Linked DNA regions of Homo sapiens: all the other regions are linked to region 1. The links come from fine-mapping of genetic effects on gene expression. A gene starts in region 1. Each other region holds a variant in brackets. All regions are shown on one strand. Distances are from middle to middle.

Region 1 (4,062 bases):
CTTCCCAGCGGTTCCGGCCGGGCTCACCTGACGGCCTCCGTCTCCAGGGAAAGGCCCAAGGGACTCAGGGGCAAGAGGACCCTTGCCAGGGAGCAGTGGCACCTCGGGGCCTCCCATTCCAGCCCCGCACCCTTCACGGCTCTGTTCTCCTCGACATCCCTCCTGTGCCTGAAGGAACCGCCTCTCACCCACCTCCACCTCAATGCTGCTGCTGGGGCTGCTCCGGACCCTGTTCCTGTCTCTCCCCACTTTCTTTTCCTAGAAAACAGGAGAGTGAGAACCAGCCAGCTGGCAGGGATGCTCTGAGGAAAATGGGAGGCAGCCCCGCTAGAACCCTAGGGGGTGACCACAGGCAGCCAGTGGGCCTGCAGATGCCACTCTCCGGGGGATGAGTCCCTCCATCTCACTGCAGAGGGGCCTGGGCCAAGGCTTAGAGGTGACTCCAAGTCAGGGGAGCTAACTGGGAAGAGAGGCTTGGGGAGAAGAAAGGGAAGTGTGTCTGGAGGGCAGGACTTACAAAGTGACAAGTTACAGGCTATTTTTGGTTCCTGGGCTGCCCTGAGACCCCAGGCCACAGCCTTAATGGCGATCACAGAGGCAGCTCCCCTGTGGGCCTCGGATTTGAGACTGCAATCCTGGACACTGCCCTGTACCCTCCAAGCCCCTTTCCCCAGCAAAGCCACAGGTCACTCTCCGGGCTGGGGCTCCCCAAGAGCCCCAGGTCATGGGATCCTGAAGAACAGCATCCCCCTGCCAGGACTTGGCTGGGGGAGACCAGGGCCTCAGGGACAGCCCCCTCCCACCCAGTCCTGAGTCATGCACTTGTACCCAGCTAGGTTCCAGAAAGGGCTGCAGGGACAAACACTGGCCGGACACTGGTGGACCTGTGACTGGCCTCCTGAGTGGCTCAGCCTCTGTGGCCTCTGGTGACCTCATCTGTGAAATGGCAACGAGGGGCCTGAGAGCAGAGGGTGGGCCAGGCCCAGGGGAGCGCCCTGTCCCCAACCAACCCCTGCACAGCTGGTGCTTGGGCGCAGCTCTGGCCAAGTTCCAACATACCCTTCAACATTTTTAACATTTTTACCACCCCAGGTTTACAGAGGAGGAAACGGAAGGCTCCAGAGATGACACTCACCGGGATCGGGGATCGCACAGCGCGGGCTCGGGGAAGTTGGGGGAGGCACGCAACCTTTGAACCTTTTGCCCGTGGTTGGTGTCTGACCTTGGACAAGACCCCCTCCCGCAGCCCTGGGCGTCGGTTGTGAGCAGACGGCTGTCCCATCTTGCAGCGGGCGGGTGGGCAGGAGCTCCACCTTCCGCTGCAGGCGCTCGCCCAGAGGAAGAGGCGCGGGGGCTGGGGGACCCCTGCCCCGACGGGCGCTGCCGCCCCGGCAGCTGCGAGAATCCGACGCGCCAGGGCGGAGCGGGGATCGTGGCGCCGCGGGGCTGTACGAGGGCGAGCTGCGCCTCGGCCAGGGGTCCCGCAGTCCCGCCTCCCCGGCCCGGGGGCGTGGGTGGGGGCCGTTACCTTCCCGTCATGGTGGCAGCGACGCCGAGCCCTGGGTTGCCGGGGTTGCCGCGGGTCTCCCTCTGCTGCTGCAGCCGCCAGCCGAGCGCCCGCCCGCCAGCCCGGGCCGCGGAGCAGGGAGACGCCCAAAAAAGGCCAAGAGCCGCTCCGCCCGCGAGAGGGGTGGGCGGGGGTGGCAGGGTGGGGCCCGCGGGGCGGGGTGGGATGGGGAGGTCAAGGCTGAGGGTGGTGGGGGTGTTGGGGAGGTGACGGTGGGAGGTTGCGGGAGTATAGGTGGGGGTGGGGGTGGCAGGTGGGGGTGGCGGCGGGTAGGGTTGGAGGGGTGGGGGTTAAAGGTGGGGCTGACGGTGGGGTTGGAGGGGTGAGAGTGAGGCGGGGGTGGGAGTGGGGGTAAAAGTAGGGGTAAAGGTAGAGGGTGGGCCCCGCTCCCGCACAGCCCCAGCTCCAGGGACACGGAGCGCGGCCAGCGGCGGGCGCGGGTCAAGTCCTTCCCAACCCGGGCTCTGCTCGCCACCTCCTGGATTCCGGGCATAGCTTTCCTTTTAAAGGGAGTAAAGTTATAATAAACGCGAACAAGCACCCCCACCCCCACAGCCCCGCCGGGACGCCCCGCCCGGCGCCCCCTCTGCAGTCCCTGGGCCGCCCCAACCGCAAACGCGTGCAGGAGATGGTAGGCGTGGGGGCGATGCTGAGACCACCTCCCTCCCGGGCTTTCCTAGCCCGGAGTTCCCACCGCGGATCTGGGCACTGACTCCCTCCCGAGGCACCCGGGACCGCCGAGTCCACGCAGTCCCGCCCCCAGGGAGGCTAAAGCCGAGAGGCGTCCCTCTTCAGTCGCAAAGCTGCTTTCCCCGGGAAATTCCGATTTCATCCCCCGTTGCGGGCCATCGCCCTAACTTGGCGAAAGATATTTCTTAAACGACAAAACCAAATGCCCAGCTCCCAGGTTTCCAGGGGAACCAGGCACGCCTCTGTATAATGAAGCGCTGAGAAGCTACCATTAGAGGCGTTAAGATGGAGGGGTAATATAAACTATTTAGGGAATCTCTTCGGAGGAAATTTTCAAACAAACAAAACAAAAAACCCCCGCCCTGCCTAAAGGCAGATATTTCCAGCTGGACAGTGGCGTGCAGCTCATCTTTGGAAGCAGCCCAGATGTCACACTGAGGTTTGGGAGCTGGGCGGCCTGATGTGTAAATGTGGTGCTACTCCGGTCTTGGCAGCAGAGAAAGATGATCTAGAAATGACGGTGTGAATTAGCAACCCACAAATAAACTGGTGCCGTTCAGAAAGATGAGTTGATAGTATCCTGCAGTTCCACCTGCAGAAATAAGCTGGGAAAAGACACCTGTTCCTAAGTGGCTGGTATTGTGGAGTGCCTTTGCAGTTGTTACTTTTTTTTTTTTTTTTTTTTTGAGACGGAGTTTCGCTCTTATTGCCCAGGCTGGAGTGCAATGGTGCAATCTCCGCTCACTGCAACCTCCGCCTCCCAGGTTCAAGCGATTCTCCTGCCTCAGCCTCCCAAGTAGCTGGGATTACAAGCATATGCCACCACACCCAGCTAATTTTGTATTTTTGATAGAGATGGGTTTCACCATGTTGGTCAGGCTGGTTGCAAACTCCTGGCCTCAGGTGATCCGACTGTCTCGAGTTATTACTTCTTGTTGCGAGCGTGTCTCAGCTGATTCGGCTTAACTGTAATTTGATGGTTGATTAAGCTTAAGTATGGATAATTTCTTGGCTCACCTGCTCATACAGGGAGAAAGGCTTTCCACCATTACTGACACAGAGGTGTAGGCATGCTGGGGCCGTGCACCAGAAATCCACTGCTGGACGGTTAATTGAATATCAGGGTCTTGTGGGAACCAAAGAGGATGAAAAGTTGAAAGCATTACACCAGAGGCCCATGCTCTCCACAGAGGAGACCACATTCCTGCCTTTTAGCCCAAAAGCCTCCCTGCATATGATAGCTGAGCACACACGGATCTGTATGTGGCCAAACCAGGACCCTATGCAGCTCCCAGTGTGCCTCATCCCTGGGCCAGGGCAAGCTCAGTAACAGCTGGTAGGGGTTGTGGGCATGGCTTAGCCCTGCTGGAGATGCAGAGGCTTCAAGGAGCCAGGGCCAGCCTCCCACAGTTCAGCCAAGAGGGCAGAGTTGCAGGAAAGAGCTGGCAATCACACATTCACACACTTATCCACTTGTTCCTTCAAGAGTATTTATACCGCATGGGCACTGGAAGTACTAGGGGGAGAAAGAAGCCATGGACCAGGCTCTCATGGAGTTTAGCAGGAGGTGGAGGATGGGCAATAAACAAATAAATAAATACGCAAACTAGATTTTAGACAAGGGTAAGTGCTGCAAAGAAAAGGACAATGGTGGTGGCTGCTTTAGAGTGAAGGGTGAGGGAAAGTTTCTGAGCAGGTGACATTCAAGCTAAACCAGAATAAGGGAAAGAGCCAGCCCTCAGCCATCTGCAGGAAAAGCATTCCGGCAGAACAGCAAGTGCAACAGCCCTGAGGTGACATGAGCT
Region 2 (4,062 bases), 28 kb before region 1:
ATGGGGCCTCATTATACAGGGCAGGACACAAGGACCCTACAGCAAGTGTCCTCAAAGAGTCGCCTCTCACTCCGTGAGCAAGACTCCTCGGCCTCCCACCCTCCGTTCACAGGCCCCCTCCGCCGTCTGCGGGCGCAGGCCTGGGAGCGCCGCCTGTTGCCATGACAGCCGGCCCCTCCCTGCCCCCCATCAGTAGGAAATCATCCCCTTCTGAAACGTCCTGTTGTGTCCCTCAGCTCCAGCCCAAGCCCCCCACCCAGCCCCCGCCTGCTCTGAGTCTCTGAGACAGTCACACACTCAGACTATGTGGCCAAGCTGGGGGCGGGGGGCATGGGCTAGGGACACACTAGAATATTCACGCTCCGGTGGCAGCAGCAGCAGCAGCCAGAGGAGCAGCCCGACACAACAAGGGACCCCTCAGGAATGAAGCAGCCTTTCAGGGCCAGAGGGGCTGTGGTCTCCCTTCCTCTCCTTAAATAGCCAGCGTTCCACCCACAGCGGCAAGGAGCCCCCTGCCACCACCGACACCCACGGGCGGAGATCACCTGCTGCCCCGCAGACCCCTGTCCCTTCCTCCCGGACCAGCAGCTAGAGGTAAGGGGCAGGCTGGGTGGGGTGGACTGGGAGCCCAGGGCTAAGCAGAGGAAACACTCAGCGGGGAGCCCTGCCCAGGGAGACAGGCAGCAGCCTGTCTCGTCCCATCTCTTTGGTGATGGTCTGACCTGTGCATCGAAGGCTGACCACAGTCTGAATTCACAGCAGCCCACAAAGCGGTGTTTCGTCCCTCTGATGGGGGCTTGCAGAGGGGAAGTGGCTTGCCGGCAGTCCAGGCTGCAATGACAGCACCGCTGCCCCTAACCATTAGGCAGCCTTGACCCATAGAGGAGCCAGATGCCTGGGAGAGGGCTCGGGCCAGGGATGGAGTGGCGCTAATGCAAAGGAAACTGCCACCACCTGGCCATGGCGCTGCCACCACAGGCCCTCCCCGAGGCCACACATGCCCACCTGCCACCTCCACAGAGGCCTATGACCTGTCCTAGATGCTCGACTCACCCACAGCCACGGGACCCAACACTGCCCAGGCCCCGGCCCATGCCACGCCCTTTCCTCTTACGGACACCGGCTCGGTGGCCGTCTGACCAGTGAGTCGTGAGGAACCAGCGAGTCTAGACTGAAGTTTGTGTTTCTAAAGGGCAACAGAGAGTGAAGCGGGGCCCATCTCAGACCAAACTGCAACAATCAGTATCAGAACTCCTCAAACGGGGGACAGAAAGGGAGAAGAAACCTCAGCAAACCTGAAACCAACCAGAAAGCTGTTTAAAATGGAGTCTCAGTCCCAGAGAGAGCGAGGGGCACGCCCTTCGGCCCGGGCAGGAAGTGGAGGGCAGTGCCCAGGCTGAGGCCCCCGGGCTGGAGGCAGGAGGCACCACAGGCCCACCTGGTGCCATGAGATATGCCACCCCTGCCGTCACTCAGGGCCCTGAGCCCAGTAACACTCTGCCGTCACTGTCCTGAAACTCTTCCTTTTTGAGCAAGGGGCTGCACATTCTCATTTCATACATGGGCCCCTAAAATGAGGGAGTGGCCCCAGGGCCAGGAGGGGGTGCTGAGCCTGGGAGACAACTCCATGGCAAACTCTGAGACTGAGTCACACTCCCCACCCTGGCGGTCTTCCAGGGAGTGAGACCGTTTCCCCGGTCTCACTTCCAGCTCCAGGGCCAATGTCCCCTGGTCAAGTGACCTAAGACAAGTTAGCAGACACTCAGCCTTGACTCCCTAACCTGCAACATGGGGCTAAAACTGGTTTGAGCCAGCACAGGCAGGCCCCCACCATGCCAGGCAGAGTGGTCAGTCGTACCTATGAGCTGCTCTCTCGTGGGGCCAGGTGATGCCTGCACTGTGGGGCACAGCACAGGCCTGAGGGACAGCCTGGGGTGGAGGGCACCCACCTTGGCCCCTTCCCACCCCCAGGTTCTAACAAGGGCCCCTCACTCACTGGGCCCCCTCTCCTCTTCCAGTCTCCAGGGCCTCCCCGCACACACCTTCCTCCTCTCCTGCCAACCTGAAAACAGCACACCTGTGTGCCCCTCCCATCTACCATGGGCTGTCCTCTCTGCTTGCCCATGCGTCTGCCCTGGAGCCCTGTTCCTCCAGTCTCCGGGTCCTCACCCCCAGCACATGCAACACGACACCCTCAAAGTCATGGGCCCCCCTCCCCTGCCACCGTCCCACCGGTACCTGCTCCCTGTTCTCCCCTGCCTCACAGGCCCTGTCAAGGGCTGTGTTCCTCCCTCCTTTTACCTCTCCTCCACAGCCCCCTTCACAGCCCTCAGCCCTTCCCCAGGGCTTCAGCCAAGCCTGTCTCCCTCTCCCAAGCATCACTCACCCCGCCTTCTTCGGCCCTCAGCTCTCCGCC[C/T]TCACCGTGGTTTTAGCAGTCCTAGGGAAAGTGCCAGCCGAGACCAGCCAGACCAAGTCAGAGTACTGTGGAACCTGGATTCCTGGGGAATGGGGTCCCCATGAGGAACTCCACATTGGACTAAGAACAGACCCTGTTCCTGGAAGCAGCAGGAAACCATCTCTGGTGTTAGAACTTCAGGCATCTTGAAACACTCTGAAGCCGGGGGCAATCTTTTCAGGTAGGGGAACCTGCCTAGAGAAATAGCTAAAAGGTAATATTATTAGGTAGTTGCCCTCCCCTTTGCTTGAGGACATTGATGGCCAGGTGCTCGGGCCAGCCCTCACCCTCCATGTGAGGGCCACAGCAGCTGGCCACTCGCTCTCCTGAAGGAAGGGTGCGGCCCACCCTTCCCTAGGGCTAGGGCCACCACCATGCCTGCTTCTCCTCCATATGAGGATGGCTCCAGCCTCCTCCTCGAGGGGCTGCTGTGTCCATGAACAGTCACCATGCCCTCTCTGCCCCGTGCCACCAGCATCCTGAGACAGCCCTGTGGAATCAGTAAGAGGAGAGGGGCTGGGCGCAGTGACTCATGCCTGTAATCCCAGCACTTTGGGAGGCCAAGGAGCACTTTGGGAGGCCAAGGAGAGAGGATCACTTGAGCCCAGGAGTTTGAGACCAGCCTGGGCAACATGGCAAAACCGTCTCTACCAAAAAATACAAAAATTAGCCGGGTGTGGTGGTGTGCGCCTGTAGTCCCAGCTATTCAGGAGGTTGAGGTGGGAGGATCACTTGAGCCCTGGAGGTTGAGGCTGCAGTGAGCTGATTGCACCACTGCACTCCAGCCTGGGTGACAGAGGGAGACCTTGAAAAAGAGAAAGAAAAAAAGAAAAAAGAGAGGGAGGGGAGGGGAGGGGAGGGGGGGAGGGGAGGGAGGGGAGGGGAGGGAGGGGAGGGGAGGAAGGGGAGGGAGGGAGGAAAGAAAGAAAAAGAAAGAAAGAGAAAAGAAGAAAGGAAGGAAGGAAGGAAAAAGAAAAGAAAAAAAGAAAAAAGAAAAGAAAAAAGGAAAATAAAGAAAAGCAAGCAAACAAGCAAAGCGAAGTGAGAGAGAGAGGAAGGTAGGAAGGAAGGAAGGAAGGAAGGAAGGAAGGAAGGAAGGAAGGAAGGGCAGGGAGAAATGTGCAGAGTGAATTTGCTGCAGGCAGGACCCCGGCTGTTCGGTGCAGAGCCAGGCTCGCCCAGGATGAGGACCCTGCCAGGGCTGTGGCCCGTGCCTCCTCCCCTCCTGCTGCCACAATGGGCACAGGCAGGATGCCAGCTTCTCTTATGCAAACCTCTCTCCAGCCTCTGCTTCAGCCTGGCTGTGCAGGGTGGGGATGGTGGATACTGGGAAGCCAGGTGCCCAGAGGAGCCCCAGAAGCTGTGCCATCATCAGCACCCACCTGGCCGAAGCCCGCTGGTGACCCCAATTCAAAGGCAGGCCAGGTGCGCTGTCCTGCCCTGGTTCCGGGCTGCGGGCTGCTCTGGCCCCACCGCCTGCCCACACTGCCACTCGCAGGCCTGGGTTGGGGAGGCAGAGTGTTTGGGACCCTCACTCTCCTTCTTCAATCTTCTGAGTTGACTAAAATCAAAACAAGAGTGGGTTTCTCTGCTGAGGGTGGGGAGCA
Region 3 (4,062 bases), 41 kb before region 1:
AACCTGGATGCCCCAGCCCAGGCCCTCAAGGCTGAGGTCAGAGGCCCATCCTTCCAAGTCCATGCGGCCTCCCTCATCCGCCCACAGCCGTGAAGCTCTTCCTTGGCCGTCTTTGCTCTCCCCCACCCCTCCTGCCTCCTCTGGCTTGGCCTCCTGTGGCCGTGAGGAGGGCAGGTTGACTGTAGGAGTGGCCATAATTTCAGTGGCAGCCGTGGTCACAGAGAGAGGTGGGCGCCCCATAGAGGCCCTGCCAGAGTCCCTGGCCCCTGCCCGATGCCCCTGTTGTGCGAGAATAAGAATACTGCCAGCCTTTCCTGCCGGCGCCTTCCCGGGAGCCCCTGGCCTGGCCCTTCCCCGTGTGTGCCCCAGGCTTTCAGGCACAGCTGCACCATCACTACCTCTGAGGCCGCGTGGAGCCAGGGGCAGCCCCCAGGACATGCGAGGGGCTGGAACCACCCCAGTGATGGTCACTGGGGTTTTCTTTTGTTTCTGGCACATGGTTTAGGGCCCACATCGGGGCTGGGGCATGGGTGAGGATGAGGGTGGGGGTGGCACCTGCAGCACACGCTGTCCCCCTCAGGACGGGGCCCCGGAAGCAGCCCCCGCACCAGGTGGAGGTGGAGGCCGCAGAGCAGAACGTCTCCCGCATCTGCCACAAGATCTACTTCCCCAATGACACCAGTGAGGTGAGGCCCTGCTCTGGTCTGCACGGCAAGTCTCAGGCCTCCAGAGGCCATGGGGCATCCTCCTTCCTGGCCCAGCCTGCTCCTTGGTAACCCCAGAGAGCCTTTTCTAGGGCTGTCCCATCCTAACCAGTCTCCCGCCCTCTCCCCATGGGATGCAGGCCCCACCTGCCCTTGGGTGCTTTGGAAGTCAGGCCAGTCCCAAGGTATGAGTTGGGGGATCCAGGCCCAGGACACAGGAGAGGACAGAGGGGTGGGCAGCAAGGGTGAGTCCCAGGACTTGGGGGCCCCTAGGGGCTTCTGACCATCTGGGGTGCAGGAGAGCAGGTATTCCCACTGTGTGTGCCTTGTGCACAGAGCCTGCCATGGCTGCTGGGGGAACAAAGGGGCCAGGGGGCAGGTAGGAGACCACCAGGACCCCACCGTGACACAGAGGCCTTGATCAGGGGCAGCAAAGACAAGCGGGCTGAGAGGCCAAAGTGGGCAGTGTCGCCTCGCGCCCTCTCCAACAGCACAATGGTCTTTTTGGCCTTGATATTCGGGTCCCGGTAACAGGAAGTTCCCACAGTCTGGCTGCTGGGCTCTCAAGGCGAGTCAAAAGGCCAGGCCTGCAGGGCCCCAGGACAGCGAATGCTGGGACTAAACAACATGAACCTCTGGCCAGGGTTCTGGAAGGGAGGCTTGCCCTGCTCAGGGCAGACCACATCCAACCCAAGTTTCATGAAGGAGCAAAAGTGCCAGGCTAGGAAGGCTCATCCTGGGCTGTACTGGCCCCTAGCCAGGCCCCGGGCCTCACCAGCTGCCTCTCTGTCCAGATGCTGGAGGTGGTTGCCAACACACGGGTGCGGGATGTGTGTGACAGCATTGCCACCAGGCTGCAGCTGGCCTCCTGGGAGGGCTGCAGCCTCTTCATCAAGATTTCAGACAAGGTGGGCCGGGCTGGGGCTGGGCAGACGGTGGGCGGACGGGCAGTGAGCGAGGCCCTAGGTGCTGCCTGTGGGGGCCTCAGCCTACCAGGGGCACCCATGCTGGACCAGGCTGCACGGCCAGGGCTGCTGGGACAGAGGTAGGTGGGGTCCTGGAGCAGAGCCAGCTCCACACGCCAATAGCCCACGCACAGCCGACTCCAGCGCAGCACCCAGGCCGTAGGCGGCCACTGGACCAGAACCCAGCAGGTTCTCAGGAGGACAGTCCCCGGAAGCCACCCAACTTCCCTGTACCTTCCCCTTCCCCAGGTCATCAGCCAGAAGGAGGGAGACTTCTTCTTTGATTCCTTGAGGGAGGTGTCTGACTGGGTGAAGAAGAACAAGCCCCAGAAAGAAGGTGAGGAGGCCTCTGTGGAGCTGGGGGAGGGCGTGGCTGGGTGGGTCGAGGGGGCACTGGCGGCCTCTGTGCGGCCCATGCCCATTCATCCATCCATTCGTTCCCGTGTGTCCCTGGGTTGTGGGAACAACCAGGCCCTGGGGCCCGGCGGTGAGGGCCAGCTCAGGCAGAAACAGGTGGCTGCACCTTGGAGTGATGAAGGATGCCCCAGGGCTGAGGGGCATGACCCTCATGGGCTGGGAGTGCGAGTCCAGGAATGTTCCTGGAGAAGGCAGCCTCTACACTAATATTGAAGGAAAATGTGGGGACTGGGGAGGAAGAAGCGTGGGGGCTTTCGAGGCAGGGAGGTGGCAGGCGCAGTGTGGGGGGTGGCAGGGGGTCAGGGCTGGTGTACCTGCTGGGACAGGCTTGGTGCCCACTGCTGGCCCT[C/T]GCCCAGGGGCCCCCGTGACGCTCCCCTACCAGGTGTACTTCATGCGGAAATTGTGGCTCAACATATCTCCAGGGAAGGATGTGAATGCAGACACCATACTCCATTACCACCAGGTACCGGGCAGGCTGCCCTGGTGGGCACTGGGGCCACCCCCATCTTCCCACACCTGTTCTGAGGCTGTAGAAGCCAGCAGGCCAGGGCAGGGCCAGCCTCAGCCCTGGGTACCAGCCCATGTGGTAGGCAGACCAAGCCCCTGAGGGCTCTGGAACCAGGAGCAGAGGGCAGCAATGTTTGGGGACAGTGACTGCACTGGCACCTGCAGCATGACTTGGAGAGGGTGGGACAGAGGGTCCTGTGACCCATGGAGCAGTGGCCGTGGCCTGCAGGGCCAACCACATGGGTGGAGCAGGCCATCACCTCCACGCAGATGTCAGGGGGCCCTGCCCTGACTCAGGGTCATTCCCCTGGCCTGAAACTCTCTACCCTGCTCAGTCCGTCCTGGATGGAGTGGGCTAAGCCCCAGTTCCCCACCATCTGAGCGGGAAAGAGGTTGGGGGCGGGTGGGCCGCAGCTGGAGACCCAGCATGCCCAGTGTGTCCATCACCCAGGAGCTGCCCAAGTACCTGCGCGGATTCCACAAGTGTTCGCGGGAGGATGCCATCCACCTGGCGGGCCTCATCTACAAGGCCCAGTTCAACAACGACCGGTCCCAGCTGGCTAGTGTCCCCAAGATCCTGAGGGAACTGGTGCCTGAGAACCTCACACGCCTGATGTCCTCGGAGGAGTGGAAAAAGGTCCCTGGTCGGGCTGGGGAAGGGTTCTTGTGCTGCTGCTCCTCCCTGGGCCCCTGCACCAGTGCCATGCCCTGCCTGGGCTCCAAGATCACATGGGTGCACATGGGTGGTGTGGAGGGTGGGCTGGCTCTGCACACACCACGCCTTCCTATGCCATCCACAGCACCGAGACTGTCCCATGCTGCATTCCTCCCCTCCCCTCCCCACCGTACTAGCCCTGGGGTAGGCAGGTGCTGCCCCCACCAGGGCTTTGGAGGGCCTCTGGGCACCCAAGTCCTTACTGGCCCTCCTGTCCCCCAGAGCATCCTTCTAGCCTATGACAAGCATAAGGACAAGACAGTGGAGGAGGCCAAGGTGGCCTTCCTGAAGTGGATCTGCCGGTGGCCCACCTTCGGATCCGCCTTCTTCGAGGTGAAGGTAAACCTTGCCCCACGCCAGGGCCTCCTACCCAAGCAGGCTCCGCTCAGCCCAGCCCCAGCAGGCCCAGCGTCAACCAGCACACATCTTGGGTGGGGCTGGCCGTGAGGCTGGAGGGCGTGGGTGTATGTGTGTATGTGCGTGTGGCCTAGATGAGCTCCTGGGAGGTGCAGCCTGGCCTCCCGGGCTGGACTATGACCGCCGTGTCCCTCCCTCCCAGCAAACCTCGGAGCCTTCCTACCCGGACGTCATCCTCATCGCCATCAACCGACATGGGGTTCTGCTCATCCACCCCAAGACCAAGGTAGCTGCTGGGCCTCCGGAGGGGCTGGGGGCCACCAGGTCCAGGGACCTGTGCAGGTGGGGCTGCAGTCATCTCTGCGGTGTGTCCTGCCTCTCTCCTGTCCCCTAACAC
Region 4 (4,062 bases), 160 kb after region 1:
AGTACAGACAGGGTTTCACTATGTTGGCCAAGCTGATCTCGAACTCCTGACATCGTGATCCTCCCACCTCGGCCTCCCAAAGTGCTGGATTATAGGCGTGAGCCACTGCACCCAGCCCACATCTTTTTGTTGTTGTTGTTGGAGATGGAGTCTCGCTCTGTTGCCCAGGCTGGAGTACAATGGCACAATCTCAGCTCACTGCAACCTCCACCTCCCAGGTTCAAGCAATTCTCCTGCCTCAGCCTTCCAAGTAGCTGGGATTACAGTTGCCCACCACCACGCTTGGCTAAGTTTTGTATTTTTAGTAGAGACCAGGTTTTGCCATGTTGGCCAGGCTGGTCTTGAACTCCTGACCTCAGGTGATCCGCCCGCCTCGGACTCCCAAAGTGCTGGGATTACAGGTGTGAGCCACCCCACCGCGCCCAGCCACAAATAAATATCCTCACCCTTGTCTGTGTTCTCTGCTATACATCTTATCAAATCTTTAGACAGTCTATTGACTTCCTAAAAAGTTAATGATTTTGGTTGTGTGCAATGGCTCATGCCTGTAATCCCAGTACTTTGGGAGACTGAAATGGGTGGTTTCCCAGGAGTTCAAGACCAGCCTGGACAACAGAGTGAGACCATCTCCAAAAAAAAGTGACTTTTAAGTTTTAAATTTTTACATGATCAAGTCTTTCCATCGTTTATTTCTTCTGTCATTGCTGAGTTTAAAAAGTATTGGTTTTCAAATATCTCATAACTTCCAGTTCCCTTTGAATATGAGGATGTGTTAAACTCTGTATTAATAAGGAGAATACATTTGGGACATGCATGGTCTCAGGGTGTTTATATGACTTGGGAAACAGAAGTTGGTCTGAATTTACAAAGACATCAGTCTGTGAATCTGGAAGTATTCCTGTGCAGGGCCCATATTAGTAGCATTACAAAATATAGATATTGGAAACCTAAAAGGTGAACATGTTGGGTTTGTTTCCTTCTTCTGTCTTCCTTTCCTTCTTTTTGCTTTTTAATCAGACGGGGTCTTGCTATGCTTCCCAGGCTGGTCTCTAACTCCTGGGCTCAAGCAATACTCCTGCTTTCGCCTCTGAAAGTGCTGGAATTACAGGCATGAGCCATGGTGCCCAGACTGAAATTCAACAGACAGGTTATATGCCCACTGAAAAGGCAAAATTAATTAGAAAAGAGGTTATTGGCTGGGTGCAGTGGCTCATACCAGCACTTTGGGAGGCTGAGGTGGCCGTATCACTTGAGACCAGGAGTTCAAGCCCAACCTGGCCAACATGGTGAAACCCCGTCTCTACCAAAAATATAAAAATTGGCTAGGCGTGGTGGTGCGTGGCTGTAATCCTTGTTACTCCGGGTGCTGAGGCAGGAGAATGGCTTGAACCCGGGAGGTGAGACTCCATCTCAAAACAAACAAACAAACAAAAGGTTATCATCAAAAGATTAATCTTTTCACTATTCCCCAATGTTTCCTTAAAACAGTTTTCATAATTTTGTTTGACAGCATTAGTGATAAAGAGGCAGACTTTATTTATTTATTTATTTTGAGACAGAGTCTTGCTCTGTCACCCAGGCTGGAGTGCAGCAGTGCCATCTCAGTTCACTGCAACCTCCGCCTCCCGGGTTCAAGCAATTCTCTGCCTCAGCCTCCCGAGTAGCTGAGATTACAGGCACCCGCCATCACACCCAACTAATTTTTGTATTTTTAGTAGAGACGAGGTTTCACCATCTTGGCCAGTCTGGTCTTGAACTCCTGACCTTGTTATCCGCCCACCTCAGCCTCCCAAAGTGTTGGGATTACAGGTGTGAGCCACCGCGCCTGGACTAAGAGGCAGACTTTAATTTTTG[C/CTTTATTTA]TTTATTTATTTATTTATTTATTTATTTGAGACGGAGTCTCGCTCTGTGGCCCAGGCTGGAGTGCAGTGGCGCCATCTCGGCTCACTGCAAGCTCCACCTCCTGGGTTCATGCCATTCTCCTGCCTCAGCCTCCCGAGTAGCTGGGACTACAGGCGCCCGCCACCACACTCAGCTAATTTTTTGTATTTTTAGTAGAGATGGGGTTTCACCATGTTAGCCAGGATGGTCTTCATCTCCTGACCTCGTGATCCATCCACCTCGGCCTCCCAGAGTGCTGGGATTACAGGCGTGAGCCACCGCGTGTGCCCGGCCTTAATTATTTATCTTTTTGAGACAGAGTCTCACTCTTGTCGCCCAGGCTGGAGTGCAGTGGCATGATCCCGGCTCACTGCAACCTCTGCCTCATGGGTTCAAGCAATTCTCCCACCTCAGTCTCCCGGGTAGCTGGGACTACAGGTATGGACCACCACGCCCAGCTAATTTTTGTATTTTTAGTAGAGATGGGGTTTCACCATGTTGGCCAGGGTGGTCTCGAACTTCTGACCTCAGGCGATCCACCCGCCTTGACCTCCCAAAGTGCTGGGATTACAGGTATGGGCCACCGCGCCCGGCCTCATGCTTCTTTATGTGCCAATTAAGAGACGCCTTTTGCCGATAAGTAAATTTACAGATCTCACATTGTAATAACGGCTTCTCGCCAATGTGAACAATCTGGTGCACTACCAGATTGTGGGAACTCTTGAAGGCCTGAGCACAGTATTCACAGACAGAATCCCTTTGATCTGTATGATGTTTGGCATGTCATAGAAGTTGCTTCTGGAGCCTACAGAGTAGTCCACAGGAGGGATGCAGACATACGTATTTTTTCTTCAACAAATGCTATTTAACGTGGTGCTGTCAATAGCCAGGATGGGCAAGGACAGTTCCACATCCTTCCATCTCACAACGGACATACTGGGTTGCAGGCTTTTTTCTCCTTCTGGGTAAATGTGGACTTCTGCCATCTTTCCATCTTCTTCCTCTCTTCCTCAGAGGTTCCTTATCCTCCCTAATTTCATTCTCCTCTTCTTTCACCTCTACCTCTACTTCCACTTTAATTTCCCTCCTCTCCTTCTCTCCTTTCACCTTCCCTGATTTTCGCGTGGCTTTGGGGTTTCCCTTTCTAAGAGGGGTTTGTAGGTCTCATCTCTTGGGTCAACTTTGAATAGCATCTCCTCTTCACTGATTAATCTCTTCTTCTTCCTCCTTGCTAATGCCACCTGGAGACTGATGCTCTTCTCCAACATCATAATCGAGTTGGTCTGTACTTGGTTCTGATTTGCAGATGAGCTGCAATGAACCAGTCTTGCACCGAGAGCTTCAGGTGTTCTCTGTATCACCATGAGGAGAAACACATGTCCTGCTCCTACTGCACCATCCCCAGCTAGGTCTGGATGCAGCAATGTAAACTTCCCGAGGGAGGGCAGAATCATCTTCCTCTTTTTCTTCTTTGCAATCTTTATCAGTTGTTGGCATAGGAGTCGTGGACTCTTCTTGCCCTGAACTGGAGGTAGGGATTTTGCAGCCTGGGGCTGCTGCCTGGGGACATCGGGAGGCCTGGCACGGGGGGCTGCTCCTCCCGCGCTGGGATACTCGGCCTTCCTCTGGTGGGATACAGCAGCCCTGCCTCGGTCCCGACCTCCCCTCAGCCCGCGGCTGCTAGTGGTCCCTGCAGGCGCCACCGCCGCCTCAGGCGGCCTTTGTTGGGGGGCTTGTCAGGAGCTGCCTTGGCCGAAGAGGCAGACTTCTAAAAACAGAATTTAGGGTACATCGAAATATAGGACTCAGTGAAAGTGACATGCATCTTTTGATCTCAGAATTTGGGGGATCGACGTTTGATTAATGTTCCTGTTATCACTGCTGCTCTTGTGGGCATTGTTCATCTTGCTGAAATTCTCTTTGATCTCAGTGCCCTGCAGGTCATTGTTGGTAGCTAAGAGCTGCACTGTCCAATACATTAGTCACTCACCATATGTGACTATGAGAATTTTAAACTTATGGTCGGGTGTGGTGGCTCACACCTATAATACCAGCACTTTGGGAGGCCAAGGCAGGCAGATCACCTGAGGTGAGGAGTTCAAGACCAGCCTGGCTAACATGGTGAAACCCTGTCTCTACTAAAAAAATACAAAAATCAGCTGGGCGTGGTAGCGGGTGCCTGTAATCCC
Region 5 (4,062 bases), 33 kb before region 1:
AGCCCCCTCCACCCTGAGCCCCATCCCACGATCACAGGGACTCACTTCAGGGTGAGCTTGCTGTTGCAGGTGGAGCAGGAGAAGCAGCTCACACACCAGGCCTTGTTGAGGGCCGACACCACTGTGAGGGAAGCGTGGGACTCAGCAGGCCTGGCTAGGCTGCCGCAGGCCCGGCTGGGCTCACAGCTGCAGCACCCAGGCCCCAGGAGAGCAGGTGGGGTGGGGGAGGGAACACAGGGCCTCACCATCGCCTTCAATCACATGGCTGCAGTTGTAGCAGACGTCCCCGAAGAGCTGTGGGCCGAGCAGGCTGTCAGAGTAGCTGCAGGCAGTCACACCCCAGCCCAGGGCCATCATGCAGCCAGCCTGGCCCTCCAACACGGCCCCTCTCAGGCATCTCCCAGGCCCTGCCTCCCAGGGCCCAGCTGCAAGGCTGGGTTGAGGGCACGGCAACCCATGAGAACCACCCTTCCGGGAAGGACAACAGGCTGGGGCGTTGCTCCCCAGAAGGCCCCTCTGCTCTGGCCACTGCTGTCCTGCAAGGAGGTGGGCCCAGGTGGTGACTGCATCCCACCAGCGCCCCCTGCCTTCTGTACCAGAGCAAGGGAGGGAGGGGGTTGCTGGCACTGTCAGCCCCATGTGCCCGGGACCTCACACCAGCCCCAGAACATTCTTCAAAGGAAGACACTGAGACTGAAGAGAGCTGCCCAGGTCTCGAGACCCCAGGCCAGGAGCCAGGGCTGAGGGTGCAGGCCTGGGCTCAGCACCTGGCAGAGCTCCTGAGGGGGTGCCCACAGCCTCCCTTGCTCACGGCAGCTCTCCTGGCCACCCCTCCAGACCCGCATCCCTGAAGGTTCTGCACCGGGCTCACCTGGTTGTAGTGAGTCTCGCAGTAGGCCAGGCCCTTCTTCTCATAGTGCCGGTGCCCCAGGAATGGCTTCTCACACTTGGCACAGACAAAGTGCTGCAAGGACAAAGGGCGGGCCGGGTGGCATCAGGGCTAGAGCGGTGACCCCGAGGGACAGTGGTGACCCGGGGACAACAGTGACCCCAGGAGCCAGTGACTCCAGGGGACCACAGTGGCCCCAGGAGGCAGCAGTGACAGAAGGGGACAGAAAGCAGAGTCTGGGCAGGTGCAGGCCTTTCAGGATTCACACTGGGCAGAGGGGACTGACACCTCTGTGAATGCCCTGGGGTCAGCAGACCCTACCCCTCCTCTAAGGCACTGATGGTAACCTTGTGAGTCACCATCCCCTCCCAGTCTGGCCTCCCCCTCGGCAGCCTCAGCCCCAGGAGTCAGGTGCCAGCCTGGTGCTGCGGCATGGTGGGCCCTCATAGGCAGAGGCGGCCCTGCCTGTCCACGTGGGGCCTCCTGCAGGCACCCCCTGCAAGCCTGGGATCACTGAGCAGCACCTTGCATTCCCCCAGGGATCTGCATGTGAGGATGAGGGCTGGGGGCTGGGGCCTGCATCAGGGCAGGACCGCATGGCCTCCCACCCAAGCCGCCACCCAAGGCACAGCTTCCGGACACAGCGCTGGCCAGGTCATCAGGGGAGGTGGTGGGCTCACTGTTCCCAGTGTACCCATGAGAACATGAGAGCCCACCACCCGGTGGGGGCACTCCAGGTGACCCAGTGCTCACACCTGAGGAACTCTTCAGCTCCGTGTCTGCACAGGGCTGTCCATGCAGCGGGTTCTGTCATCCACAA[C/G]CCCCAGGCACTCTGGACAGACTGCCCCCAAGGTTTTCTCCTGACCTTGGAGTCTCTTAGAATGCCAGCAGGGGGAAGAGGAGAGGTGGGCACAGCTACCCAACCGTGTGTGTGCACTCGGGTCTCCTGGCTCCCGTGGGCAGGCTGGGGTCCCTGGCTGAGCACAGGGAGGGGCAGTACCCCTGAGGAAGGGCCTCGTTGGGAGCCAGCCACCCGCCCTGGGCTGGGAGTGTGGAGGAGCTTTAGGGCTCTTACCATGACCCTGAGCTGGGGCACCCCCCAACCTGAGGCCACGTGTCCACCAGCCTGGCTCACCTCCACGTGCCACTGCTTGCCCAGCGCGTTGACCACTCGGCCCTCGATGGGCCGGCGGCAGGCCCCGCAGATGGGGACGCCCATCTTGTCATGGCAGGGCAGGCAGTAGAGCTCACCCTTCAGCTCGCGGGCCTCGGCTGTCAGCTCCTTCCTGGAAGACAGCGTGCAGCCCCCAGGTGCCACCCCTGCCCTTCTGCAGGGTCATGCCAGCAGCGCCTCCACCCCAGGGCACGGCTCCCCGAGGGGCCCATTCTGTCCCTGCAGAGCCGAGGCGGCAGCGCCTTCTGATCTCTGGGCACTTTGAAGACTTCCTGTGCCCCAGACAGGCCCTGGAGCACAGACTTCCTGCACAGCCCAGAAGAGTGGGCTGTGTTCTGCACCCAGGCCTCTGAGAAGCAGGTCTGTTCTTGGGCCCCCCTCCTCCTCCAAACCAGAGGGGGTGTCTGGATAGGCACGGAGAGGACTGGAGGGGACGGTGGGGGTGGGCGAGGACGGGGGCTGAGGGGCTGCCTATGCAACTCCTCTCTCCAACACCAGCACCAAGCCCACTCCCGGTCTCTTGCCCTGCCCCCTCAGGTCCCTTCCACTGCTCCATCTCAACCCTCGTCTGCAGTCTAGGGGTCCAGCCCACCCGCCTCCTGAGTCTCAAGTGCCCCCCAAACAGAGCCCTGGAGAGAGAAGCTTCCTGCCATGGCTGCTTCCCAGCCCCCAGCCCACCTCTGCCCTGCAGCCTTGCTCTCGGGACCCCTCTGTCTGCCCACCCTGCTCCCCTCTCCCTCCTCAACACTTCCCCAGGTGGAGGCCCCACCGCCCTTACCCTGGGCCAGCCCTGGCTCCCCGCCCCCACAACTGCAGGGCCGGGCTGCGCACCTACCCACAGTGGGTGCAGTTGAAGTGGTCAGGGTGGTAGGCGTCGCTCCTGAACATGAGGGGCTGCTCGTCGATGACCAGGTGGCACCGCTGGCAGATGTACTTGCCCAGGCCCTTGGCCTTCTCACGGTTGTGGCAAGGCCGGCAGAGATGCCTGCGGGAGGCGGGGGCATTAGGGGCAGAGCCCCCACTCCCACACAGCCTGGCCACCTCCAGGAGAAGAGAGGCCAGACCCCTGCAACTTCACTGAGCAGCTGGGGGCTTCAAAGGGGCTCAGCCCAGGGTATGGGAAAGCAGACTGCCCTGTCACAAGGCCCAGAAGGTCACAAGTGTGTCCTGGGAATGGGACGCATGCTCAGCAGGAAAGATGCCAGAATGCTCGAGGTTACTGTCTCTGGATGGTATTTTCCTCTTTCTACTTTCTCTAAGCCTGGGGCATGCTGCAGAATACAGTAGACATTTAATTGATATCTGCTGAAAGCATTATTTTCCCAATGTATTTAACACACACGAGTTATAATGAGTGTCACTGTGCCCAGCAGAGTGGCCAGTGAGTGTCCCGGGAGGCCCACTCACCCCCTTCCTTCGGGGTTTGCCAGATGAAGAAGGGCCCAAACACGTACAGGCGATTTCTGTCTCCAAAGACAAGCACTGCTATGTCAGATGGAGGCCCCCAAACCCAGGAACTGTCACTACAGAGTCTTTTTGTGAAGACCTCAGAATAATTTCTGATGCTACTCGCTGTGTTGGACGACAGCTGTGTTCTCAACGGAGAGACAAATCAACATGGTTTCTGTTTCCTTGGACCTCAAAGGTGGCAGGAATCTAGATTCAGAGTCCCCAGGCAAAGATACACAAAGGCCCCAATCCAACCTCCCTGGCCCCCGTCTCCACCTGCCACCCGAATCTCTCTCTGGTGCTCCTGCTGCATCCAGGCCTCCCTTCCCAGGCCCCCCAGCCCCAGGGGCCCTCTCCACTCCTCACGAGCCTCCACGGCTGCCCGACGCCCAGTGTTGGCCCCTCTGACAGGCTGGTCAGGGAGGATACGGAAGAGATCCAATCGCAGACCCAAGATCCCCACCCAGGTTATGGTGGGCAGACCCCAGATGCCAGGGCCACCCATTCAGCATCCCTCCCTGGACCCCAGGACCTGCTACTGCTGGGTGTC
Region 6 (4,062 bases), 46 kb before region 1:
AATGGCATCTGACAGGGGGCAGGGAGCAGGTATGGGCTGGGCACCCAGGGGTCCCATGCAGCCTTCACACTGCCGTCTCTCCTGGCCAGGCCCCCGCCTGCCCAAGACGCAGCTGATCTTGGCTGTTAACTGGAAGGGGCTTTGCTTCCTGGACCAGCAGGAGAAGATGCTGCTGGAACTCTCTTTCCCAGAGGTCATGGGTCTGGCCACCAACAGGTGCGGGCCCTGAGGGAAGATCTCTTCTTACACACTGAGTCCTTGTGATGCATCTGGGGGCTCGGGGAGAGATGGGGAGAGGGGCAGTGTGCCGTCCCGGGTAACAGGCCGGGGTGGAGGGACAAGAATCTACGTATGCGATGGCTTCTGTACTTCGGAGCCCCACCCTCCTGCACCAGGCCGTACTGCCCATGAAGTACTCCATTGGGGCATCACGCGTTGCACTGGCAGCTTCTCTTTGAAACCCAGGTCCACCCGGAAGGGGCAGGGAAGCGTGCAGCCTCTGGCGGGCACTTATTTAGAAGGCTCCTTTCTTTGTCATGGACGAGAACTGGTGGCCTGGAGGGTACAGGTTGTCTGGGAAGGCGACAAGGGACAGTGCCTGGTGTGTCCTGGGGCACAGGGCAGGGCTGGGGGTCCTCTTAGGCTGGGGCTGACCCCCACTCCCATGGGTCTCCATGGATCTCATTGACTGGGAACTTTTCCATGCCCTTTGGGAAGTCCCACCCAAGCCCTGCCAGAGCGCCCCTTGGTTGAAGCACACAACAGAGTGGCACATGCATCTCTGGGCTGTGCCAGGTGTACAGTGGCCACCACTCCCCACTGGCCACCTCTCACTGAGGCTGACCATGCTGGGCACTTTCCTGTATGCCACGAAGTACCGACAGCATCACCCATTCTGCAGATGAGCGGATGAGTAAACTGAAGCACGCCGAGGTTAGGTGGCTCAGAGTAAGCACATGGCAGAGCCGGCAGCTCATCTCAGCTCTGACCTTTGCAGTGTCCCTGCGGTGTCACTGCACACCAGCCACCTCATTATCTGCCCACAGCCAACCCCACACATGGGCTGCACCACTCTCAGCCTCCGAGAGGTCCTGTGCTCCGCCGTCCTTCATTTGTCCAGACCCACAGTGGTGTCTGGCCTAGTCCTGGCCCTGGCAGAGCAGCTCTGTGTCCTCATCTGTGACTCAGGACCCCCAACCCCACCTCCCGAGGCTGTTTAGGGGCTGGATCAGGGGAAGGTGGAGGGGGCTCCTGGTCACGCTGTCCTTCATCTCCAGGGAGGCCCAGGGCGGGCAGAGGCTGCTGCTCTCCACGATGCATGAGGAGTACGAGTTTGTGTCACCCAGCAGTGTGGCCATCGCTGAGCTGGTGGCCCTGTTCCTGGAGGGCCTGAAGGAGAGGTCCATTTTCGCCATGGCCCTGCAGGACAGGAAGGCCACAGGTGCCAGACTGGGTGGGGTGGGGTGGGGTGGGGTGGGGTGGGGGAGGGCCGCGCATGGGGTCTGTAGGTAGGTGGCATGCTCATCTCCACACAGCAGCCACAAGGCAAGCAGAGGGAGGGAAGGCCCCAAAGCTCTGTGGGGGCAGCTTTAGGCAAGGCCCTGCCTTCTTTCAGCCACTGCTTCCTCTTCTACAAAATGAGGGGCTAAAGGAGGTGGTCTCCAGCCCTGCATAGGCCAGCCATGCTCAGCGCTGCACTGCTGCAGAAGCACTGAGAAAGGCCAGCCCCCAGCCCAGGGAAGTTTTGAACACCATCCCCACAGCGCACTGCTGCAAAAGCACCCCATTATCCCATTTTACAGACGTGAGGCCAGAGGCCCAGAGATGGAAGTAGCTCACCCAGGGTCACACAGCTCAAGGGGGTGGGAGCCTAGTTCTTGGCCACAGCTCTCCCACAAGCCAGCACTCCATCGAGAGCTGGGCTGTGTCTGTGGGCTATGGGGGAGCATGGCAAAGCCCCAGGACCCCCGCTGG[G/C]CCAGCCTGCTGGCCGGGTGGTCATGGGCGGTGGGTGGTGTGGTTAGTGCAGGGACTTCAGAAGGGGGTGCTGGTTGGGATGTAGCAGAAGAGGCTGTGTGTGGGGTCTTTGGGCAGTGAGAAATGTCAGCCGAGATGTGCTGCCCTATCGCCCCATTCAGTCCTCACGGCCACCGCAGGAGGGAAAGAGGATTGCCATCTCCAAATTCCAGATAAGGAAGGGGTCTAGAGAGGCAGGCAGCACTCAGGCCAGGCGTGGGGACTGCCAGCCTGTGCATCCTCCCCTCCCTCATCCCTGGCTCCTGGTCAGCCCTCCGAGGGTCTCCCAGGGCTAGGGCTGCAGTCAGAGCTCTCGAGCCCCCACCCACCCTGGGCTCTGTGCCTGTGCAGCTGCAGCAGGTGACAGCCGTCTGAGGCCCCTGAGGTTCCAGTCCCACCATCGCTCACTCTTGGAGTGGTCTTCTGCCCACCACTCTATGCCTCGGTTTCATCTGTCAAAGGAGATGACCCACAAAATTCCAGCACAGCCTCTGGCCCCTGCAGAGCCCTCAGCAAATAGCCTCCCTGCCCTTACAGATGACACCACCCTCCTGGCCTTCAAGAAGGGGGACCTGTTGGTCCTCACAAAGAAGCAGGGGCTGCTGGCCTCTGAGAACTGGACCCTCGGCCAGAACGACAGGACAGGCAAGACGGGGCTGGTGCCCATGGCCTGCCTCTACACCATCCCCACGGTCACTAAGCCCTCGGCACAGCTGCTGGTAACTGGCACGCTCCCCTGTCCTCAGCCTGGGTACCCGAGGTCAGGGTGGAGCAGTCCTGGGATGCCTAGTTGGGAGGCCTAGCTCAGGGCCTGCAGCCCACCTAGCAGAGGCCAGGAGGGCCACCCGGGCAGCCCCCACCATTCCTGCGGCAAGGTGTGTGTGCAGTGCCAGCCCAGCTCTTGGTACTTAGTAGGTCCTCAATAAATGGGTGTTCCCTCCCTCTTCCATCATGGGGGTGTCCGGGGGACAAACCCAATCTTTCTCTGCCTCATTTACACTCTGACCCAGGGGGACTCAAGTCTCTCCCTGCACAAGGGAACCACCCACCCCAGCCCCCAAGACCAGCCTCTCCGGAGGCAGGAATGGCAGGCATTGCAACATGTACATACTGAGTGCTGAGTATGTGCCCTGTGCCTGTGGTACGAGTCTGGGCATAATAGCAGCTCCACCCTCAGGGCAGACATTTGGGCAGATAATGACACATGGATGGCAACTGTGCAAAGTGCCACCAAGGAGAGGAACAAATAATAGGGTGGGGAACTTACCCTGTCTGGGAAGGCATCCCCGAGGGAGGGACATTTGTGCTGAGGCCTGAAGTTGGTGGCAGACTAGGCAGGCAGGGCTGGGGTGAGAGGTGGCCCCATGGAGAAGGGGAGCTGGGGAGCTGGGGGTCTGAGAAACCCAGAGTGCCGTGGCCCCCAGAACGGGTGATGTGGGTGCCACAGCCATTGGCACTCACCCTCCCAAGGGAAAGGAGACAGGCACCAAGAGGTAGAGTCATGGTCCTGGGTCACACGGCAGGTGACAGGGGTGTGGGTAAGCCCTGGCCTGTTCAGCCCTGGGCCTGACCCCTCCCAAGTCACTGAGGCTGCCAGGCCGGGAGGAGCCTGCAGGAAGGGCCTCATGGGCGGTGGCTCCTGGGCACCCACAGGCCTGTGCCCCCTTCAGAGCTTGCTTGCCATGTCACCAGAGAAGAGGAAGCTGGCGGCTCAGGAGGGGCAGTTCACAGAGCCACGTCCTGAGGAGCCACCCAAGGAAAAGCTGCACACCCTGGAGGAGTTCTCCTATGAGTTCTTCAGGTGCCCCCCAGCCCCGCTCCGCCTCATTGCACCCCCACCTCCCAGCCCCACCTCACCTCATTGCACCCCCTGCTCCCAGCCCCGCTCCACCTCATTGCACCCACTGAGAGCTGCAGAGAGGCCACGCCACCCATGTGGAGCCTGCCTGGCCTTCCCAGGCCAGGGGAGTCAGGAGGGGCTTGCGGCAGGGTGGGGTGCTCTGGCCCTCCCACAGCCACTCAGGGGTGTCAGAGGACAGAGAAGCGTGG
Region 7 (4,062 bases), 56 kb before region 1:
AGTCCTCTGCACATCTCACAGGTACCAGCGCACGTTTACAAGCCACGAAAGACAAAGCTAAAGTTCGCCTTTCTGTAGCTGCAAAAGAAGACGGTACAAGCCAATTTTCATCCTTCCTCTCCCGTTCACCACTTTCGATAGGTGCTGTAGGTGGGGCAAAAAATTCTCTCAAACCCTGAAATGACAAGAAAATGGTATGTACCAAACTCCAAACAAAAAAGAGAAGAGAACCAAATTCTTCCCCATGTTACCCTGATTGAAAAACTTCCCGTTCTTTGTACCTCTAGGACACTGACCAGTACCTTTTTAAAGCACTGACCTTATGCTGCCAGCAGACTTGTAACGGGGTTTTTTTTTTTTTTTTTTTTTTTTTTGAGACGGAGTCTCGCTCTGTCGCCCAGGCCAGACTGCGGACTGCAGTGGCGCCATCTCGGCTCACTGCAAGCTCCGCTTCCCAGGTTCACGCCATTCTCCTGCCTCAGCCTCCCGAGTAGCTGGGACTACAGGCGCCCGCCACCGCGCCCGGCTAATTTTTTGTATTTTTAGTAGAGACGGGGTTTCACCTTGTTAGCCAGGATGGTCTCGATCTCCTGACCTCATGATCCACCCGCCTCGGCCTCCCAAAGTGCTGGGATTACAGGCGTGAGCCACCGCGCCCGGCCTTGTAACGGGGTTTCTTATTCATCTGGTTGGTTTTAGTTTTTTCTGGGCTTTAGTTTTTTTTTTTTTTGCTCCAGCAGACCTTCCTCGCTCAAGTCCTTATAGGACCCTATTGTCCCTATCTGTTCCTGTCTGTCCCTGCAAGTTTCTCCTAGTCTTTGCTAGTCCTTGCTAGTCTTTGTCTATCCCTATCTGTCCCTATAGTCCCTGTTAGTTCCCGCAAGTCCCTGTCTTTCCCTAGCTCTCTCTATTTGTCTCTATTTCTATTTATCCCTACTTATCTCTATTTGTCCCTGCAGGCCTCTTCAGGTCCCTTCAGGTCTGTTTGTCCCTGATTGTCCCTGTTACGTCCCTGTCCAGGCAGCACTTGCAGCAATTTGCCACTGTTACTACTTGAGATCGTCATTACGGGAGTTACTACTGTCACTACTTGAGACCGTCATTACGAGACGGAACGAAGGGGGATGAACGTAGAAATGAAAACTTAAAACAAAAGAAACTGTTTTAAAGGGGCCAGGGGAAGAAAAAGGGCTCCCTACTCCTAGTAAGCAAAGACAGCCCCCACCCCAAGCTTCTTCAGCCCTTAGTATTTATTGGGTAGAATAAGCAGGGAGGAGGAGGTAACGATTGGTCAGCTGCTTAACTGATCACAGGTTCATATTATTACTAACAGGCTTCAGGTGTGCCCTGTAGATAATCACAAGAAACACTTGTGCCTGGGTCGTGACTGCCCTCAGCATTCCTTCTGGGCGGCAGACGCAGTTTGTCAGTTTGCCAACATTCTGCTTTTATGAGAACAGTTTGCTGTTTGCTCATATAGCCTCCAGTGGTATACTGAGCTGATCACGACCCTCACTCTTTCGGCCTGCATCAGTCACCCTTGAGACAGCCCACAGGGTCTGGAATTTATGAGTGGTTTGCCATTGTTGGGGCATGGAGCTTGGATTCCATCCTAAGGGAAGTGGGGAAAGTTTTAAGCAAGAGAGGATCTTGATCATATTTGACTTCCAGAAAGACCTCCCTGGCGATGTGGCAGGATGGAGCCTGGGGCTGGGAGGCCAGGCAGGGCTGCTACAGAGATCCAGAGAGAGCTGATGAGGAATTGCCCAAGGAACAGGAGCCAAGAGGAGGGGACAGAGGAAACATGCAGGAGACAGATGGTAGCATGTGGGCACTGGTTGGATCGTGGGGGCTGGTTGGATTGTGGTGGCTGGTTGGGTTGTGGGGGCTGGCTGAATGGTGGGCGCTGGTTGGATTGTGGGGGCTGGTTGGGTTGTGGGGGCTGGTTGGGTTGTGGGGGCTGGTTGGATGGTAGAGGCTGGTTGGATTGTGGTGGCCAGCTGGATTGT[G/C]GGGGCCGGTTGGGTTGTGGTGGCTGGTTGGGTTGTGGTGGCCAGCTGGATGGTGGTGGCTGGCTGGGTGGTGGGGGGTGGTTGGGTTGTGGGGGCTGGTTGGGTTGTGGCCAGTTGGATGGTGGTGGCTGGCTGGGTGGTGGGGGGTGGTTGGGTTGTGGGGGCTGGTTGGGTTGTGGGGGCTGGATGGTGGGGGCCGGCTGGGTGGTGGGCGCCAGCTGAGTAGTGGGTGCCGGCTGGGTGGTGGGGGCTGGATGGATGGTGGGGGCTGGTTGGATTGGAGGAATGAAGGGATGGGAGGGCTCCAGGATGACCCCCAGATTTCCAGTTTGGGTGAATGGCTGATGGCGATGCCTGTAGACCACAGAAAGAGGAGGGATGCAGGAACTCAGAGAGCCAGCCATGCACATTGCTTCCCATCTCTGTTCGGTGATGTCGTGTCGCAGTTGACATTGGCTTTGGTGGGAACATGTACACCACAGAAATAAGCAAATGCTGTGAATTGGGCTTTTCTTCTTGGGGGAGCTGGTTGATAAACATTTACCAGCACACCACTGAGTATTAGGGGAAAGATGCTGGCCTCTGGAGATGTGGCATTTGAGGTGTTAATGGGCCACTTTTATAACATGATAGAGGCTTGAGTCCATGGGGAAGGACGCAGGAGAGAACCGCCCCCAACACACCCCCACCAGGAGTGGGGAGGCTCCACAGACCGTGGGAGTAGGAATGGTCAGGAGATGGGGTTGAGTGGCTCCCATGAAGTCCTCACTTTTCTCTCTGCTGTGGAGGGGAGGGGCTGCATTCAGGGAGGGAGGTGGGGCCTCAAGGCAGAGAGAGAAATGACTGTAATCACCGTGAGACTGGGGATCCCGCACATCTGGGAGCAGATGGGCTGTGCAAAGGGCGCGGCTGCTGAGGACAGGGCTGTGGCTGGAGAACCTGCTGCTTCCTGAAGCCGAGCCCCACCCTAAAGGACCGAGAGCACAGGCCATGGGAGAGGAATCGAGTAGGGATGCAGAGCCTGGTGGCACTGTCCTGAGAGAGGAGGAGGCTGGGCAGGGCCCCGGCGCTGGAGAGGTGCCCTGCATATGGGACCTCTCAGAGGTGCACAAGAGCTGTGTGCCCAGGTACCCCTGTCTCCTCTCCTCCTCCAGCCCCCAGCCTACTCTCCTAATGGTCTGTGTCTTTCAGGGATGAGATTTACTGCCAGATCTGCAAGCAGCTCTCGGAGAACTTCAAAACAAGCAGCCTGGCCCGGGGCTGGATCCTGCTCAGCCTCTGCCTCGGCTGCTTCCCACCCTCAGAGAGGTTCATGAAGGTGAGAGGGTTCATGAAGGGAGGGCGGGCAGGGGGCAGGTTCTGGTGGGAGCGTAGGTGGCCCCTGGCCCTGGAGCAGGTCCACAGATTCCAGTACGTGGCCCATTTCTCCTGCTCCTGCAGGCCAGATGGGCAGCCATGCCTATGCTTCTCCAGGACTCAGTTTCCCCATCTGGAAAAGAGGACCCTGCTCCTGGCTCCTTCCAGCCCCTACGCAGGGTCTGCAGGGCCATTTCACTTTGGCTCAGGTGTCAGGATGGTGCTTCAAGACTAAAATGAGAAGGTAGATGACACGGGCCTTGAAAAGACAGGTGTCCAGGAGTGGGCCCTGCCTGGAGATGTGCCACGGCACCTCTTTCTAGTTCTTAGGACTGAAAATGGAGCTGGGTTGGCCGAGTGTTAGTGGCCCCAAGCTTCACTGATTTAATATGCCTTTAAATTCTGATTATAAAAGTAATATGTGGAAATGCAGAACATCTAAAACCAAAATAAAAGTCACCCCCACACTCAGAGCTAACTTCCGTTAATATTTCCTTCTGGCCTTTTGTGGTGTTACAGGGTCCTTGTGATCAAACAGAAAACACTTTCTCACATGTCCCTTTGGGGACAGCAGGAACCACGGTCACTGAAGCCATCTGCGCATGGCACTCAGGCTGCTCCTGACACCAGTAAACCCTTCCAGGCTGTTCCTCCCCACCCCAAGGCAGAAGAAATAACATCTCTCTGTGAGACAAAA

Direction of the effects. Positions count from the first base shown, and alleles are read on the strand shown. Sizes are in standard deviations (SD) of each study's normalised expression. Not every link is listed here.
As copies of T replace C in region 2, the expression in tibial nerve of the gene that starts at base 2,045 in region 1 goes up (moderate effect, 0.48 SD a copy in GTEx).

What was found. PIP is the estimated chance that this variant, and not a neighbour inherited with it, causes the effect.
Region 2: its variant is fine-mapped to the expression of LIMS2 in tibial nerve (GTEx, PIP above 0.99). The same link has a PIP of 0.9 or more in aorta, atrial appendage, breast, esophagus mucosa, esophagus muscle and gastroesophageal junction.
Region 3: its variant is fine-mapped to the expression of LIMS2 in whole blood (TOPMed, PIP above 0.99).
Region 4: its variant is fine-mapped to the expression of LIMS2 in whole blood (INTERVAL, PIP 0.98).
Region 5: its variant is fine-mapped to the expression of LIMS2 in lung (TOPMed, PIP 0.94).
Region 6: its variant is fine-mapped to the expression of LIMS2 in whole blood (INTERVAL, PIP 0.97).
Region 7: its variant is fine-mapped to the expression of LIMS2 in whole blood (INTERVAL, PIP above 0.99).

The regions. Positions count from the first base shown.
Region 1 is chr2:127,673,486-127,677,547 of GRCh38, forward strand. It overlaps LIMS2 (LIM zinc finger domain containing 2), which reads right to left and starts at 2,045. Exons shown (of 10, transcript NM_001161403.3): 1 at 1,529-2,045. The coding sequence starts at 1,539.
Region 2 is chr2:127,645,651-127,649,712 of GRCh38, forward strand. All of the region lies in intron 4 of LIMS2 (LIM zinc finger domain containing 2), which reads right to left. It overlaps GPR17 (G protein-coupled receptor 17), which reads left to right and starts at 503. Exons shown (of 2, transcript NM_001161417.2): 1 at 503-594. RefSeq lists an enhancer at 3,310-4,037. The variant C/T (reference allele first, on the strand shown) is at 2,417.
Region 3 is chr2:127,632,678-127,636,739 of GRCh38, forward strand. It overlaps MYO7B (myosin VIIB), which reads left to right. Exons shown (of 48, transcript NM_001393586.1): 40 at 581-686; 41 at 1,499-1,612; 42 at 1,919-2,006; 43 at 2,443-2,549; 44 at 3,045-3,230; 45 at 3,531-3,647; 46 at 3,868-3,951. Among named protein-coding and RNA genes, the nearest start is that of MYO7B-AS1, 3.9 kb to the left of the region's middle. RefSeq lists silencers at 140-229, 330-379 and enhancers at 650-879, 3,176-4,062. The variant C/T (reference allele first, on the strand shown) is at 2,436.
Region 4 is chr2:127,838,138-127,842,199 of GRCh38, forward strand. It overlaps the pseudogene ZFP91P1. Among named protein-coding and RNA genes, the nearest start is that of POLR2D, 18 kb to the right of the region's middle. The variant C/CTTTATTTA (reference allele first, on the strand shown) is at 1,855.
Region 5 is chr2:127,640,025-127,644,086 of GRCh38, forward strand. LIMS2 (LIM zinc finger domain containing 2) reads right to left here. Exons shown (of 10, transcript NM_001161403.3): 5 at 2,899-3,048; 6 at 2,025-2,175; 7 at 872-964; 8 at 246-294; 9 at 46-121. Among named protein-coding and RNA genes, the nearest start is that of GPR17, 4.1 kb to the right of the region's middle. The variant C/G (reference allele first, on the strand shown) is at 1,710.
Region 6 is chr2:127,627,095-127,631,156 of GRCh38, forward strand. MYO7B (myosin VIIB) reads left to right here. Exons shown (of 48, transcript NM_001393586.1): 33 at 90-216; 34 at 1,278-1,441; 35 at 2,551-2,732; 36 at 3,684-3,814. MYO7B-AS1 (MYO7B antisense RNA 1) reads right to left here and starts at 3,690. Exons shown (of 3, transcript XR_923314.3): 1 at 3,281-3,690; 2 at 2,343-2,465; 3 at 1-1,419. The variant G/C (reference allele first, on the strand shown) is at 1,975.
Region 7 is chr2:127,617,140-127,621,201 of GRCh38, forward strand. It overlaps MYO7B (myosin VIIB), which reads left to right. Exons shown (of 48, transcript NM_001393586.1): 27 at 3,201-3,327. Among named protein-coding and RNA genes, the nearest start is that of MYO7B-AS1, 12 kb to the right of the region's middle. RefSeq lists an enhancer at 3,060-3,109. The variant G/C (reference allele first, on the strand shown) is at 2,010.